Regions from separate parts of the Homo sapiens genome. Here region 2 is linked to region 1. The links come from fine-mapping of genetic effects on gene expression. A gene starts in region 1. The other region holds a variant in brackets. All regions are shown on one strand. Distances are between the middles of the regions.

Evidence for each region. PIP is the estimated chance that this variant, and not a neighbour inherited with it, causes the effect.
Region 2: its variant is fine-mapped to the expression of CDKN2B in whole blood (TOPMed, PIP above 0.99). The same link has a PIP of 0.9 or more in blood mononuclear cells and monocytes.

Annotation. Positions count from the first base shown.
Region 1 is chr9:22,005,099-22,013,749 of GRCh38, forward strand. It overlaps CDKN2B (cyclin dependent kinase inhibitor 2B), which reads right to left and starts at 4,207. Exons shown (of 2, transcript NM_004936.4): 1 at 3,700-4,207; 2 at 1-1,149. The coding sequence starts at 3,855. The coding sequence ends at 889. All of the region lies in intron 1 of CDKN2B-AS1 (CDKN2B and CDKN2A antisense cis and trans regulatory RNA 1), which reads left to right. It also overlaps the pseudogene UBA52P6. RefSeq lists silencers at 3,549-3,748, 5,872-6,166.
Region 2 is chr9:22,026,848-22,035,498 of GRCh38, forward strand. CDKN2B-AS1 (CDKN2B and CDKN2A antisense cis and trans regulatory RNA 1) reads left to right here. Exons shown (of 19, transcript NR_003529.4): 2 at 2,586-2,747; 3 at 5,827-6,139. Among named protein-coding and RNA genes, the nearest start is that of CDKN2B, 22 kb to the left of the region's middle. RefSeq lists enhancers at 1-376, 3,224-3,303. The variant A/G (reference allele first, on the strand shown) is at 3,592.

The sequences.
Region 1 (8,651 bases):
TCCGCATCCTAGCATGTGTGTGTGTGTGTGTGTGTGTGTGTGTGAAAGAAAACGTTACAGTTAACCGTTACAATTGCTCTCACTCCACTCCACCACCTCATCCTGTGTAGTCTGCCTGCGGAACCCGCGGGAATCTCTCCTCAGTGTAGTAAGAGCAAAGGCCAGCATCCTGTGCAAAGGTGCTCTGCAGCGTCGTGATCCAGGGATTTTAGCATCTGTCGTCGCTTGCACATCCTCTCTTACCCCTCTGCTATCTGGTGGAGTTGGGCGAGGGTCTCCAGGGCTTCCAGAGAGTGTCGTTTACGCATGTGACTTGCCATGCGCTCAAACTAAAGCGCCGCCGGGGACTTACTGAAGCCCACCTCGGCCCTCCTCCACTTTGTCCTCAGTCTTCAGGTTTTCCTTTCTGCCGCTAGGGCCTAAGTTGTGGGTTCACCATAACTCCTCAGCAGACATTGGAGTGAACGCATCGACTGCCGTCACCCAAGTGCTAATCACTGCCTTCTCCCACTCAGCGCTGGAGTGGGAGATTCATCCATCGGAAGATTCGTAGCCACCAGGTCCAGTCAAGGATTTCATATGCACTTTCCCTCAGAAAACCCTGAAAAGCAAACGACCCCTGGAATGTCACACACTCCTAAATATCCCTGGAAATCCGCTTCTCTGTGTTTCGCTTCATGGTGAGTGTCGAGGGCCAGATAAGACAAAGAAAAAAATGTATGGAAGGTTATTCCCGGTCGGCTCCTCCTTCCTGTGAGTCTCAGACAGGCTTGCAGGCTTACAGGCTTTCCGCCGCTCCCCGTTGGCAGCCTTCATCGAATTAGGTGGGTGGGGGTGGGAAATTGGGTAAGAAAATAAAGTCGTTGTGGGCGGCTGGGGAACCTGGCGTCAGTCCCCCGTGGCTGTGCGCAGGTACCCTGCAACGTCGCGGTGGCCCCGCTCCTCGGCCAAGTCCACGGGCAGACGACCCCAGGCATCGCGCACGTCCAGCCGCGCCCCGGCCCGGTGCAGCACCACCAGCGTGTCCAGGAAGCCCTCCCGGGCAGCATCATGCACCGGTCGGGTGAGAGTGGCAGGGTCTGCGCAGTTGGGCTCCGCGCCGTGGAGCAGCAGCAGCTCCGCCACGCGGGCGCTGCCCATCATCATGACCTGCCAGAGAGAGCAGAGTGGTCAGAGCCAGGGTGGGGGCAGGTATGGGAGATGCCGGCCGGGGCAAGGCAGGTGGAGCCATTTAAAGAAACACCTAATTGCAAAGTTTTCACCCAGTGCAGAGGTGTTCAGGTCTCTGATGTCTGGTGTTTCTTCATTTGCTGATGCAATCCACTTTCCCACCCCACCTTCAGGTTATACTCAGTACAAATTAAATGCCATTTTATTCTCTAAACGTGCAGAGACAAGAAAGTTGATGGTAAAGTGATGATCATCATTATGGAAAAACAAATCTTGATTTCCATTGGAACATGGGAATCTATTTTGTTAAATGATTTAGGGGCAGAGTTAAATTTATTCGGCTTTTAAAGTTTTAAATTATTTGCCTTGCTGACCCCTCCTCCATAATCCAGGTCTACAAATATTTATTAGGTAGTCAACTACTGTTTGTTAGAAGTTGGGAGTAATGGTTTAGGGGAGAAAATAAACAACTAAGTTTTTTTCTTTCTTTTTTTTTTAATTTATTTAGTTCTCATAGCAAATCCCGTGCGGAAGGCTTTTGTTTGTCATGTGTCTGAGCTCATAACTGGCTTGTAGTGTGATAATTTGAGCCAAAGTTGGAGATTAGAAGGGAAAAGTAAATTAAATCATGCAAAATCTTATAAAATTATAATAAATGATTTTTCCTTAACAGTTCATCATTTTAAATTTAGACTATAATATTTTTAATGTAATATAAAACTAACTATATTTGTATACTACAGGATTTTATAATAGCTAAGATTTAAAAATGTTAAACAGTAAATATTTTGCTATATAAAAAGAGCTTGGGCCAGGCCCAGTGGCTTATGCCTGTAATCCCAGCACTTTGGGAGGCCATAGCAGGCAGATCACCTGAGGTCAGGAGTTCGAGACCAGCCTGGCCAACATGGTGAAATCCCGTCTCTACTACAAAAAATAAAAAATTAGCTGGGCATGGTGGGGCGTGCCTGTAGTCCCAGCAACTCAGGAGGCTGAGGCAGGAGAATCGCTTGCATCCTGGAAGAGGTTGCAGTGAGCTGAGATTGTGCCACTGCACTCCAGCCTGTCCGACAGAGTGAGGCCTCATCTCAAAAAAAATAAAATAAATAAATAAATAAATAGAGCTTGGATGTTAGCAGTCAATCAGGATGATGCATAACTTAGAAAAAATGATGTTTTGCAGGAGTAATCCTGTAGCAGCCATTTGTGTACATGAACATTATGAAAACATTTGCTGTCATATTTAAAGTCAATTATAAGACAATTTTTGGTAACTAAATGTCTAAAATCGAGTTATTTGTTATGGGTTTATGCACTTTAAAATATACCATTTAATTGAAAGGCAGTATACTTCTCATGTTTTGTTGGCTTGTTTCATTAATATTAGAAATGTTCATTTCATCTCTTAAAAACCGTGATAAGTTATATCTACTAGTGATGTAAGGATATTTTACATAGAAAAAAAGGGGAAAATAGCTGCTGTTAGTATTTCAGAAAATGGTGAATTACATATATAACTTGTTTTTATAATTATTAATAAAATTTTAAGTTTTTAAGATGCACTTTACAATATTTTTGCTCCTTTAAAAATCCCTCATTTGTTATACCATTATTCTAAGAATTCAAAAGAAATGAACACTTCTTTAAAATCTATACTATTAACAAGATCCCTTAATATTAGCTTAGTTTTAGAGGGTGATAGTGAGGTGAGTACTGAATATGACCACTAGCCAACGGTAAAGTACAAAAGAGTTGTCCGAGATTGTAAAAGAAATAAAAAATATCAGTACTAATTAAAGCAGGATTCGTACTTAAACATTGAATAAGTGTATTTTAACAATGAAGATAAAGATGCATTATTTATGAAGATCCTTTGCCATTCAAAAAGGACCTAACAGTTGCTGCAGGAATATTTTTGTAATCTGGGCACTGAGTATGATAATTAAAGAATGAGAAACCTATAGAACTATATATTTTTTCTCTTATGCATCACTCATAAGACACTGCTAACATAAAAGGAACTAAGTACTGTGGTTGAGGAATCCCGTCTCATTCTCAATTAACCTCTATGAGAAAACAATACAACAGATTTCATATAGTAGCTTAGAAGTTTACATTGATTTTTTCCATGTACTATGATTTTGTAGAATTCCTTAAATCCAATCTAGAATGCGTAACTTATACTTTACTTATCTTTATCGTTGAAAGCAGACAGACAAGATAATCTTCTTCCCTAAATAAGCTTTCCTTTTCTCCTTTTCTCCCCAATTCAGTCTATTCCTTGCATCTCTGATCATGAGATGGCAGAACAAAAACCACTAAAAAAAGCTTAAACAGTGGGTTTTTCAATGTCTCTCTTTAGGATTTTTGCTGGGTAAAAGCCTGTTTTACGCGTGGAATGCACACCTCCGGCCAACGGAGACTCCTGTACAAATCTACATCGGCGATCTAGGTTCCAGCCCCGATCCGCCGAGGCCGCGCCCCGCGTTCGCGCGCCCCCTGCCGGCGAGGCCCTGGGGCCCCAGCTACCTGGATCGCGCGCCTCCCGAAACGGTTGACTCCGTTGGGATCCGCGCCGGCTTCCAGGAGCTGTCGCACCTTCTCCACTAGTCCCCGCGCCGCGGCGCTGGCCAGACCCTCATCGCTGCCGCCCCCACTGGGCATGCCCTTGTTCTCCTCGCGCATTCCGCAGCCCCCAGACGCGCAGCGGCCCGGATAATCCACCGTTGGCCGTAAACTTAACGACACTCTTCCCTTCTTTCCCACGCTGCTCCGGCGCACTCTCTCCTTCCTAGGAGACCTGGGCTCAGCTTCATTACCCTCCCGTCGTCCTTCTGCGGCTTGGGGCCCCGTGCAGTGGCCGAGCGGCCGGTCGTTAGCTCCGGGCTTTTCCTGGCGCTCAAGAACCAGCGGGCGCGCCTGGATTGCTTCTGGGAAAAAGCGCCTAGCGCGGACGCAGCCGAGCTCAAAGCCGCTCTGGCCGCAGGGTGCGGACGCGTCGCGGAGTCCTCACTGCCCCGCCTCGCTCTGGCAGAGTGGGGAGCCAGCCGGCAAAGAATTCCGTTTTCAGCTGGGCCAAGGGGCCGGCGTCTCCCCACCCCCTTAGGCTCCGCCCCCTGTCCGCTGTGATCGCCGGGAGGCCAGGCCCGGGCCGACGCGTCACGAGGGCGGGGAAGCCTGCCCAAAGATGCTAGGACGCATGCGCCAGAGACTGGGCCAGGGAGCCGCCAGGAATGCTGGCTGCACTGCTCGCTGGATGTCCAGTAAAGCCAAGGCTAATATTTTGGGAATGTTCACCACTGCCCTCAGCTCCTAATCCCCAGTAGGCGGAGCAGAGGATTTCTGTTCCTTCAGCCAGCCAGTTGGTTTCACTGTGGAGACGTTGGTGGCTCCCTTGTGACCGAGAGAAAGTCATTCAAAATAACTCCGTGTTTCTTAAGATGTCTGAAAGCGACAGCTCTGCACCTGTCATACAAGTTAAATTCATCCCCAGGCAGTACTTGGGCTTCACAAGTTTCATAACTTGTATCAAACTTAGCAATTTTCTCTTGGATGTGTCTTTCTGTTTGAATTAGTCAACCATAAAAATAGAGAAAAATCCCGAGAATCATGTTTTGCGTGTGCTTTTTAATTCTTTCCATTTTTGCATTATGGATACAACCCTTAAAAGAGAAAAAAACTAGTTCGAGATTGAGAGTGGCAACCTGGCACACATAAGACAAAAAAAAATTATACTTTAAGAATCTGAGATCCCAGTTTCATCATATTTGTACAGTAAATCTTTGTTTGCACTCTTACCTATTTAAACCCACTTTGTCAGGTATCTTATTTTTATTTATCATGAGTAATAAAGGAAATTTATGCAGTAATAATGAAACATCATAAGAGAGGGGTGTGGTGCTGGGCTTGTCATTAAACAGGCTGAACCTGTCATTAAATTCTCTTCTGAAGATTTAAATGCCAAGTGCTTTTTTTCCCCTTCCTAATCTTCCTAGGTGAGTTTGAATCAACATTTATTACTTAAAATATTTAAAACATTTCAGCGGATGCTACATTGGATAGGAAGAGAACCGCAAGTTATGGATTTGTTGCCTAAAAACTTTGGTGAGGAACTGCATAAGTGGACCTCTCCTAAAAGTGAACAATTTTTGTTTACAGAATCATTTTGGTTCGGAGTGCTGAGGAAGACAAAGTCTTAACAGGAGGGCAATTGCTTGTGTATTGCAAAATGAGAGTCTTCACATGTTTTTTTTAGGATACCTTAGCTCTGACTCCTCATCCCCCAAATCCCTGTAGAATTAAAAAAAGCTCTTTCTTTTAAAGGCAGTGGAAGTGCCACCACCATGGAAGTGCTGGTTAGGGCTGAAAATCTACTGACAGAGCCTCAACAGAGCTGAAATCCACCTGGACAGGGAAGGGAACCGGGTAGCATTAATAACAATTTCTTTTTCTTTCCCATCCAACCCCCATTTCCTAGTCTTCAGTTTCTTAATTTCTCTACCTTTTACTCTTATGCTCTTGTTTTGACCTTTGAGTTTCTCTGAAACTTATCAGAAAAGTTAGGACAAGATAGTCTGACCCAATTCTTGAGCCATTTTCTTAGGTAGTAAATATGTCAGAAAAATGAAAGCTGTTTGGAGTTGATAAGGAAATGGAAGATAATGTTTTTCTTTGAGGGGGACATAAAGAATGGTGATAGGGAAAGAACCAATGACTAAGTAAAATGACTGAGAATCTTGCACGAGGCAGATGTGTGAGCTTCGCGAAGCAAGTTGACTGAATGAAAAACAACTTTGGGTAGGGAAAACGTTGCCGGGGGCATTCGCGCTTACTAGCACCACGGACAGCGCTTTGCTTATACTCAGGCCTGGGTGGTCCTAACCAGCTCCAGACAGAATTCTAAAGCTTCACACTTGATCTTCCAAAGCCCCTTTTCTCCCGTCAAATAGAAAGGACATTATGGAAGCTCAATGAATTTCTTTGAAAAACCAACCTGCTCAACCTGGTTTTCAAATATGATTGGATTTTATCTAATATTCTCTGTATAAAGAATATTATATAGTCTATATTTAGAAGACGAGAAGAGAAATCAAACTTATTGTGTACTCTGTACGAAGTGCTTTACAGCTGTTGTTTCATTTAATACTCATAAAACTCCTCTGTGGCATGTGTCCATATTTCAATTTTACAGACAAGCCAAAAGGATCAGAGAATTTGAGTGACTTGTATACTAGCTAATCATTGTTGGAGGTGGGTATAACTTTTGCGACTTCAGAGTCTTTTTACCCTTTATACTACATAGTGTTTTTTTTAGCAGCTGTCATGGTAGGCTTAACTGGAAAAAAGTAATAAACTGGCTTATAATTATTTTTCAGTCTACACTGTGTTTTCCAGATGGCTCACCTCACAGCACACCCTTACCAGACTTCAAAGATGACATTTCACATGTAATACAATAGCACATTTGTCTTGGACAATAGAGTGAGATTATGAAACATTTTACCTCTCCTTGAAACCCAGCTGTCTCTAGGGTGAAACACAATCTGTTGTTAATGCTTTAAACACATTTAAAAGATGAAGTGGATGGGAACATAGTGGGCAGCTGAAACTTGGAATTGTCAGAGCCATGTCTTTTAATAAGGTGGAGAATTTATAATTGAGAAGAAAGAAAGAGAAAGTTAATGGTAAATTGGCATAGAATTTTGGAGGTCAGTAGAAGGGAATGAGTGGCATCCATTCCAATGTTGCACATAACTCAGATCACTAGTAATAATATTTTTATATTCTAGTTGGTGAAATTGTCTGTATATGACCTTGATATAGAAGTATGAACAGATCTGCCATCCTCTTTTTCTTCAGCGAGGCAGCCGAGCTGCAGACACAGAGATGCAGATCTTTGTGAAGACCCTCACGGGCAAGACCATCACCCTTGAGGTCGAGCCCAGTGACACCATTGAGAATGTCAGTGCGAAAATTCAAGACAAGGAGGGTATCCCCCCTGACAAGCAGCGTCTGATATTTGCCAGCAAACAGCTGGAGGATGGCCGCACTCTCTCAGACTACAACGTCCAGAAACAGCCCACCCCGCACCTGGTGCTGCACCTGCGAGGTGGCATTATTGAGCCTTCACTCTTCCAGCTCACCTAGAAATACAGCTGAAACAAGATGATCTGCCATAAGCGCTATGCTCTCCTGCACCCCTATGCTGTCAATTGCCGCAAGAAGAAGTGTGGCCACACCAACAACCTGCACCCCAAGAAGGTCAAATAAGGCTCTTCCTTCCTCGGAGGGCAGCCTCCTGCCCAGGCCCCATGGCCCTGGAGCCTCAATAAAGTGTCCCTTTCATTGACTGGAAAAAAAAAAAGTATGAATAGAACTGGTTGACTGGCCAAGAGAAACAGCGACCTAACCTTGCCCTCATTTATGCACACTTTTGCATATGATTAGGACTAAGATAGTGTTTATAAGTGAGAAGAGAAGGAAATTCATAATCACTTTTGGGGCTTTTTCAAATTTTTTATGAACACACCTTCCCACCAAGAGGTTTGATTTTCTCCATTTTATGAGTTGGGTTTATTGCTCCGTGATCCACAGTATATCCACTTCTATATTCCCATGTATTTTTCAAGATTAATTAAATGGTGGACTTGTTCATCATTTTAGTATCCGTATTAGTTTGCTAGGGCTGCCATAACAGAATACCACAGACTGAGTAGCTTAAACAACAAATATTTATTTTCTCAGAGTTTTAACTTCTCCTGAGGCTTCTCTTCTTGACTTGCACATGGCCATCCTACTGCTGCCTCTTCACATAGTCATCCCTCTGTGCACACGTGCCCCTGGATCTCTTGTGTGTGTCCAAATTTCCTCCTCTTTTGAGGACACCAGTCAGATTGGATTAGGGCCCACCCCAATGGCCTTATTTTAACTTAGTCACTTCTTTAAGGGCTCTATTTCCAAATACGGTCAAATTGTGAGGTATTGGGCTTAGGACTTTAATATAAAAATTTAGAGGTGACAGAATTTAACCCATAACAACAGCATCTTAATTTTTACACATTTTACTTTTCATTTCTTTTTAAACTGTTATTAATAATTTATTCATTTGAATAAGGATTAAAATAAGGCTAGGATATTGAAATTGGTTGAAATTGCTACAGTCTCTTGTATCTCTCTCTCTCTCTTTTTTTTCTTATAAGGGACAGGTTTCATTCACCTTGTCGACCAGGCTGGAGTGCAATACTGTGAGCAAGGGTCACTGCTGCCTCGAATTCCTGGGCTTAAGGGATGCTCCTGCCTCATCCTCCAGAGTAGATGGGACTACAGGTGTTGGCCACCATGACTGGCTAATATTTTTACTTTTTTGAAGAGATGAAGTCTTGCCATCTGGCCCAGGCTGGTCCCGAACTCCTGGGCTCACACAATTCTTTCACCTCGGCCCCCCAAAGTGCTGGATTGCAAGTGTGAACCACTGCACCTGG
Region 2 (8,651 bases), 22 kb after region 1:
AGTTCACAAGGGGATCTCCTGATCTGAGGTTTGCAAAGATCTGTGAGAGCAGTGTGGATTCCCAGAGTTGCGCATTCACTTACCACTTCCCTGGGAAGGGGAGTTTCCCTTGACTCCACGTCTTTCCCAAGTGGGCTGTCTTCCTGCCTTGATTTGCTCTGGTCTCCGTGGGTCGAGTTGTTTCCTTGATTACTTCCAATGAGAGTACCTTAATGTTTCAGTTGAAGGTGCTATATTTAGTCACCCCTTTCTTTCCGCCCTGTGAGAGTCACACACATTAACTGCTTCTAGTTGGCCATCTTGGCCACTCCTGCCCTAAACCTTTCTAGCAAAAAAAAAAAAAAAATTAATAACATGTTGATCTACCGCTTCTCTCTCTTTAAATTTATTTAATCATTATGAATTTTTTTACATTTATTTACATTGTTAAGCTGTTTTATTTTAAAAATTCTAGGTCCAGCTCTTCCTGGATTGCTTTTATATAAGGAACATATCTCATGAAATAAATAAAATTCACATTCAAATGCAGAAGAATCTATTGGAAAAAACTCAGAGGACAGGATAAAAGCACTCAGAAAAAATGCCAGGAGAAGGCGTTTATCACATAATATCGCTGATAAGAGTCTCTCGAAAATTTTTCTCTCTATTCATTCTTACCAAATATAGAAAGTGAACAAAACAATATTAGTATTAGAAAAAACATCCAAAAATAATGACCTTTCTGAATGAAGACTGCTTTTTTCATGGTTACTCTTTTTGGGGTACAGTTCTATGTTGATTTATCCAATTTATCAAATAGCCATTCAGCAAATATTTATTGAGTGTCTGTTATGTCACAGGCACTCTTTTCGGTCCTCAAAATACATCCGTGACAAAGAGTAAAAGATTCCTGTTCATGGCTCTTACATTCCAGGAGGGATAGCAATTTCTTTTGTAAAGTTAATCACACAACAGAAATGTGAAATAATATTGATGCTGTAAGGAAAGGAAAAATAAATGAAATAAATTGAAAAAGAAATGTGAAGGAATAATTAAAAGAGGCTATATTTTATTGAATAAAAATAAAAGAGGCTATGTTTTATTGAATATGCTCCATGTTTTATACTATATCATAAAACATACAAGATCTGGCTTTTAAGAAATCAATATCTTCATCAATATCTTCATTCAGACTCATCTAGATTAGATTACTCTGAATCTAATCACATAGAGACTTGTCTGACAAATCCAGATTTTTTGGACGTTCTGCAGGACTATTTGTCAGGATATTTCACAGGATTCCAAGAAATAATATTGGTGTCCATGCTATAATGATTCCTCAGCTCCTCCCATCTGATAAAATATTGATTTCTTATACATATAAAACATATAAAAATATTTAAAATATTTTTTGTTATATGAGTGAATCAATAATAAAACCACTATCTCAATAATCATCAACTGATTGCAAACTGATTGTTCATCTCAGAAAAACCTTGGCAGAGTTAAAATAAAAGTTTCAAAATACAGAACTTAGTACCAAAATTAAGGCAGTGTTAGGTTTCTAATTTTGCTATTCACATGTTAAATGAATTTTCAAAATTCAGTAGCTAATACTAGCTAGGGTTTTAAACAAGACATAGTTAAAATGAAACTTTAAAAAAAGAATCATAAACTTCAGTATCATCATGATGGCAGTTTTAGGATTTTAATGTTGACACCCTAGTCTCAAATTTGTACTTAATGTGGTTATATAGCTAGGCAGTGCTGGAGTGAAAGTTTCAAAACAAATTAAAATCAAAAGTTAAGAAAAAAATATGAAGGCAATTTTAAGGTGTTTAATTTGGCACTGTAGTTTCAAAATAGTACCTGAAACTTAACAGCAAAGTATCAGATTCATTTATAAAACAATGTGACTGATCTTTATGTATGGTTTGTGAAACATTTATGCAGTGTCACTTCAGAAAACTCTGCCATTATAGATTTGAATTGATTAAGGATATCCACTCCTTTCCTTGGCATGATACAAATAAATTACTAAAGTATAATTGTAACAATGATAAATATAAGTGACAATACCACCATATTACTATGAAACACAGATTGATTATGGTATAATACAATTTAGCATCTCCATATTTTTGAAAATGAACTTGTTTCTCTAACTGGCTTAATTTGGGACAATTTGGACATCAAAAAGAATGATGATGCAATTTAAACCATACAAAAATTAAAAAAAAAAATCCAAGGGACGGTGGTGAAAGTCTTCTTTCTAGAAGAATAGCAGCTAATATACACAGAACGAATCTTAGAATTAGAAAATCACTATATTTTGATCCCCTTCCCCAAAGGGTGACAAAACCATTGGTAGACAGTGGTTGAGAAACAGAATAGTCTCAGGATATCACTCCGTAGATTTATTCATTAATTAAAAAGAGAAAATGTGCTTTGAGAGAGAGAAAGCTATTACCGTCTTTATCAAATAGGAGAGCCTGATCATGTGTGGTCTGAAGTTTATCTAATGGGATTCCTGATGGAATGTTTAGTCTGAATCTAATCACATAGAGACTTGTCTGACAAATCCAGATTTTTTGGATGTTTTGCAGGACTATTTGCCACGACATTTCAAAGGATTCCAAGAGAGAATATTGGTGTCCATGCTGTGATGATTCCTCAGCTCCTCTCATCTGATCTCCGTCCTGGCCCCCATGACTTTCTTTGTGGTAGTTAGGGTGTGGTATGTGCCACTGAGGCCCACACCTATTGCTGTAAGTGCTGTTTGGGAAACCATCATCTTTCAGGTCTGTGTGATAAAAGAAGAGCCTTGGGGAAATGTTCTCTTCCAAATTTAATCTTTACATTATTAGAAAATATTTTGATGACCTGTTTTCAAATATTTTCTTATAACTTTCCATTTTCATGTGTTTATTCTGACAGTTTATTTTATCTTGTATTTATAATCACTAAGATGTTAGTATTGTAATATTAATATTACATGATTTAAATTAGGAAAAATGTGTTTTCTATTACAAAATGGATAGTGGATAATTTAAGTATAGAAAGTAATATTTTCTATATGGGACTATTTCACTCTCTGTAATATCCTGAATTCTAATTCCCACTGTAGTGAGCTATAACTTTACTAATCAGTTTTCTTACAATCGATTTTAAGTCTATTTTGTTAGATCTAAAGACATAAAGCCAAAAGTTCTTCTTGAAGAGAAGCACATTTCAGTTACGTTTATAACTTGAAATATCTGGTTTTACTCAAAACTCACATGTCATACTGAAAAACAGAAGGGAGATGTTGTCTTTTCTTGAGGAGAGACTTCTCTGCAGTTAAACAGCTCACCACATGTTTAGAGTACATAGACAATACACTTCCTCTTTTGTAATGTAGATTTCAGCTTTTTGCTTGTAGAATTATCATTGGCGTGGAGGTTATACAGGGGAAGTAGTGAAAAATGTAGCCAATACCAGGAACCTTAGGAAGTGTCTGAACTTCATCTTTTCTGTGTTCCTTTGCCCTTAGGGGGTCAGTGTAAGAGTTTGGGCTAGGAAGAGATTGCTTCTTTTACTCTATTTAGTTTGTACTTCCTATCTGGGTATTTG[A/G]CAATAAATGACTCATTCTCTTTGTTTGCCCTGGTGTTGAAAAATTTTCCCATATGCCAGAGAAAAAATGTTACAGTGACACAATGTAAAATTGTAAGAGGTGGAAAAAGATGAGGTATGGACATAGTGAATGGAAGTTCAGCCCTTTAAAACTACTGGCAGAGTAGATTTTACTCAGGCTTCAATTAAGTAGACCTGAATGTAAATTCAGGTCTAGCTCTGCAACTTACTAGGTAAGTGACTTTAGTCCTCTTTAAGATTTAGTTTCCTCATTACAGGATATAATAATACTATTTTTCTTATGAGGTAAGTATTAATTGAAATAGTATATGTACATTCTAGCATACAGTGATCCCCTAATAAATGGAACTTATCATTAATACATTGCTAGGAAAAGAAAAACACATCAGGGAACAAAAGATATAACTGTCTTATTGATAACAGGGGATGGATTCTTGTGGACAAAAAAATTTAGAATTGAATTTTCAAGGGGTCATTTCTTTCACCAGGTGTAGTTAGGTTTGCTCTTATGGTAACAATGAATATGTTTGTTTAGCTTCTTAAACCGGCATCATGGAACGTTAATTAATAAACAGAATTCAATGTATTTGTGGGGCATTTTATTTTTTATGCAATCATTTGTATATATCACCTTCACAATGCATGCCACATTCTCAGACCACCTATTATGTTATTTTCTTAACATTTTTCTTCAAATTCACTCACCCTTTTAAAAACTTTACTGAAGTCTCACTTAAGCACATAATTTGTAAAATCATGGGTTTGTTGTGCAAGTTTTGTTTTTCTAATACACTCTAAAACAAATACCTTAAAAGAGTTACACCTACAGTCCATATACCACCCATAATCATCTCAAGTACCTCCAGTGCTTGTTACTGCACTTTGGAAAACACTAACATACATTATTCTCATTAGTTTTTATAATAGTTATATGAGGTGAATAGAGAAGGCATAACTATACCCATTTTAAAGATGAGAAAAGCAGGTTCATGGATAAAATCTCATAGTAAATTGCTAGAATTGGTCCTGATACTCATGCTTTCTTTAGATCAACCCAGTGCTCTTACTGTAATTGATACCAAATTCTTTAAGGAAACTTAGAGCTAAAAGTAAAATTTTTTGTATTTAGACCTGATTATTTTGTGGTAATTTGAATATAGGTCAATATGAAAAAAAATAAAAGATGAAACAAAGAAACTGAGAGCAGATCACCAAGTTGCGGTAGGTTAGCCTAAGATAGCTTTTGGTTTTCTCAGCCTTCTACTATTCACAGCTTTGTGTAATCCCCTCCACTTGAGTATCTTGCTCATACCAATAGAATATGGTAGTAGAGTAGAGGTCACCTCTCTGATAAGTTTACAGAAGATTGCGACCTCCGTCTTGCCAGAGTACTTCCTCTCTTGCTGGTTTTGATGAAGCAGGCTGCCACAGAAGAGAGGCTCACATGGCAGGGACCTGAGGGCAGCCTCTGGCCAACAGCAAGCAGTAAACAGATGCCCTCAGTTCAATATCCCTCAAAGAAATGAATCTTACCAACAGCCAGTTGTGTTAGCTGGGAAGCAAATCTTTCCCTAAGGGAGATTTCAGATGAGGCCCCCAGCCTTGGTAGACACCTTGATTGCAGTCTTGTGAGAGATTGTGAAGCAGAGCTATTCTCAGAATTCATGGGTGTTTTAAGCTATGAGGTTTTTTTTGGGGGGAGAATGGTCATTTGTGATTCAGCTATACATAAGTCTACAAAAGTCATTCCAGAAGTGATTCAGTGGAGGTAGAATCATGTGGTTGTGAGCCCCAGGCACTTGGAGTTCTGATAGAATTGTGACTTCTAACACTGGACACCTTTTCTTTTTCTCTTATTCTCCCATTTTTCTCCTTTCCCCTTTTCCTCCCTTCCTTCCCTTCATTCCTTCTACTTTTTCCGTACTTTAAATTAATAGAGCAGTTGGAAACACAAAAGCAATGTCTGTATCTACAAAATGTCATTATTTATACTTTGTATCCACAGTGTGCTGCCTAGGGCTTCATGCCTGAGGTGCATCTGTAGAAGGTGCTCAACAAAGGCTTGGCTGTTGGTATTATTGAATCACTGTGGAGTTTATTCATTGTTGTCCATGCCATTTTGAGTTTTCATTTTTTTATTTATGGGAGTGTCTTTATTCTTTTAAAGAGCTTTGTTTGTACACTCATTTTCTCTCTCTCTCTTTTCTTCCACAGGCAATTTATAGCACTGATCTGTCATCAATACCACTTGCTGTCTTGGATGTGAAGATGATTTTTCCTGCAGGGATTCCCTCTACAAAATTAAAAACACTGGGCATGTGGAAATAATATTCATGCTTTAAATTGTCTTTTCTCTTCACTACACCAGGGGTCCCCAACCCCTAGGCCACAGACTGTGGCCCTAGTGTAGTGAATAGAAAAGACAATTTAAAGCGTGAATATTATTTCCTCATGCCCAGTGTTTTTAATTTTGTACTGGTCTGTGGCTTGTTAGAAACCAGGCTGCACAGCAGAAGGTGGGCAGCAGGTGAGCAAGCATTACTGCTTGAGTTCCGCCTCCTGTCAGATCAGCAGTGGCATTAGATTCTCATAGGAGCACAAACCCTATTGTGAACTGCACACGCAAGGGATCTAGGTTGTGCGCCCTTTATGAGAATCTAACTAATGGCTGATGATCTGACGTGGAACAGTTTCAACCCAGAGCACCCCCCACCCACCTGCAGAAGAATTGACTTTTACGAAACCAGTCCCTGGTGCCAAAAAGGTTGGGGACCACCGCTGCACTACACTACCTAAAAGATTTTCACTTTCACAGTGTTGCTTGCTTCTGTTTTACATGCACAAGTAGCTAAAGCTAGCCTTCTGGTAAATGGAGGGGCAGAGCAGATGGTGGGGGAGGAGTACATACGGACGAATTTGAATCACAATTTCCTCACTATATGCCAGCAAAATTTAATAATAGCACCTAAACATACACATGCATATGTAAATGAGTCACACTATAAAAACTTTTAACAAGTACTGGCAAGTCAGATGGCAGACTTACCCTGAAACCTGCCACTCCAATAAAAACCTCATAATTAAAAACAAGGCTGTCTATAAAGCATAACATATAATAACAATTATTTGCAACTGGTACAAGGCTAGATTAGAAAGTTGAAAGTTATCTTTCTCAGGTAAAAATGCTTTTCCTATACAGTATGCAGCCAGCAGATTATCATCCATAGTTTGAGTAGTGAGATGCCACTTGCTCCAACAATTAACACCTGCTGATGTTGGTCCAAGAAGAGACTGAGGTGATGCAGTTTCACCTGTTTTGTAAGAATAACGCTGGTGTTTGCCATCTATTGACAGAGTGCCTACTACGTGCCAGATGCTTTGTTGGCACTGAATGTGCTATCTCATTCCAGTTTCTTTATACTCAATGAAAAACCAACTACATTTATATTGCATTGAGGCTTAAAGTGGTTTACTGACTTGCTTAAGATTATACAAGTAGTAGGTGGCTACAGCAGGGTTTGAACCCAAGTATGCTTGATTCCCCAAACCATGCTTTTTAAAAAATCAAAGGTGTAACTTCGATAAAAGACATGAAGTTAATGAATATATGAAAGATGGTGAATAGATACAGATACAATGTGGCCTTAGGCCAGATCATGTTGAACATGTGGTGGGATAGATAAGAGAAGGTTCTTCTTTGTTGTTACCTGGTTCTCAATTGGTTATTACTTTATGTGCTTTCCATATTAAAATTCTATTATTCTGGTCTATAAATTCACCCACCCAGACTTGCCTAAACTAATTAAACCCTGAAGTTTGGCATGTCTCTTTTTTGGGGTGCCTCTATGATAGGTGGTAGAAATGAAAATGGAATTAAAAGTTTTGTGAAGCTATAGCACTACTTTTTCATTGTGTTCCCCCCTGACTTTCTGCCTTAGGTGTTTACTTTGGTGAGATATCCTGGGAGAAATTGAGGTGAAAAGAAGCCCGAGTTAGGATTAGGGAAGAGATGAAGTAGTCAATAAAATTCAAATTCTTGTATTCTGAAACGCAACTATTCTTTCTCCAACTTGGTTTTGGACAGAATGTCTTAGTGTAGCTGTTAACAAAGAAATTGATGACAATTAACTCCCATTTCTCAGAATTTCATCATTCTTTGAAAGTGTTTATCATACTCAATCTTCTAAAAATCCTTAAGGCATACTACAGTGTAGAGGTTGGCAAACTTTTTCTATAGAGGTCCTGATAGTAGCTTGTTTCGCTTTTGAGGGCCATCGAGTTTCTGTCACAACTACTCATCTCTGCTGTTGTAATAAAGACTCACCCATAGACAATACATGAATGAAGGAGTATCTATGTTCCAATAAGACTTTTAAAAATAAAATTAGGCAGCAAGACTGATTTGACATAAGGGTCATAATTTGCTAACCTGTGGTATAGTGAAAGGAGTTCAACTAGAGTTTGATTATGGCTGTGCCATTCTAGTTGGGTAGTTTTAGGAAAGTTATTTAATTTAGATTTGATGTAGTTTTCTCATATGTAAAATGGGGATAATAAAACCTGCTTCACAAGACTACTATGAGGAGTAAGCTATGTAGCTAAATATAGCAAAATATCTGGCATCTAATAGATGCCTAATAAATGGTGACTATAATGATTCTTATCATTACTGTATTATTTTAAACATTTATCTTTTTTTTTTAGGTTGTTGTCTAACTAAGGTATTTAGAGAAAATAAGTGCTGCTGAGGGCAGCTGGAACTGTTTTGCTGGTTCATCACTGAAATTCTAGTTCTTGTTGGTGCTTATTTCATAATTATGAAACTAATTCTTTTGAAAAGAACTTGAAGTAGAGCAACAAGAACTAAGATAGAACTAATACCATTCTCTCTCAGTTCTTATTGCTTTACTTCAAGTTCTTTTGAAAAGAATTACATAGATATGGGTGCATGTGTTTGTTTATTTTCCTTGTTGGGTAATCGTGAATATGTTGATTGGCGTCAAACATGGGTCTCACCTATACCCATGGCAGTAAGCTTC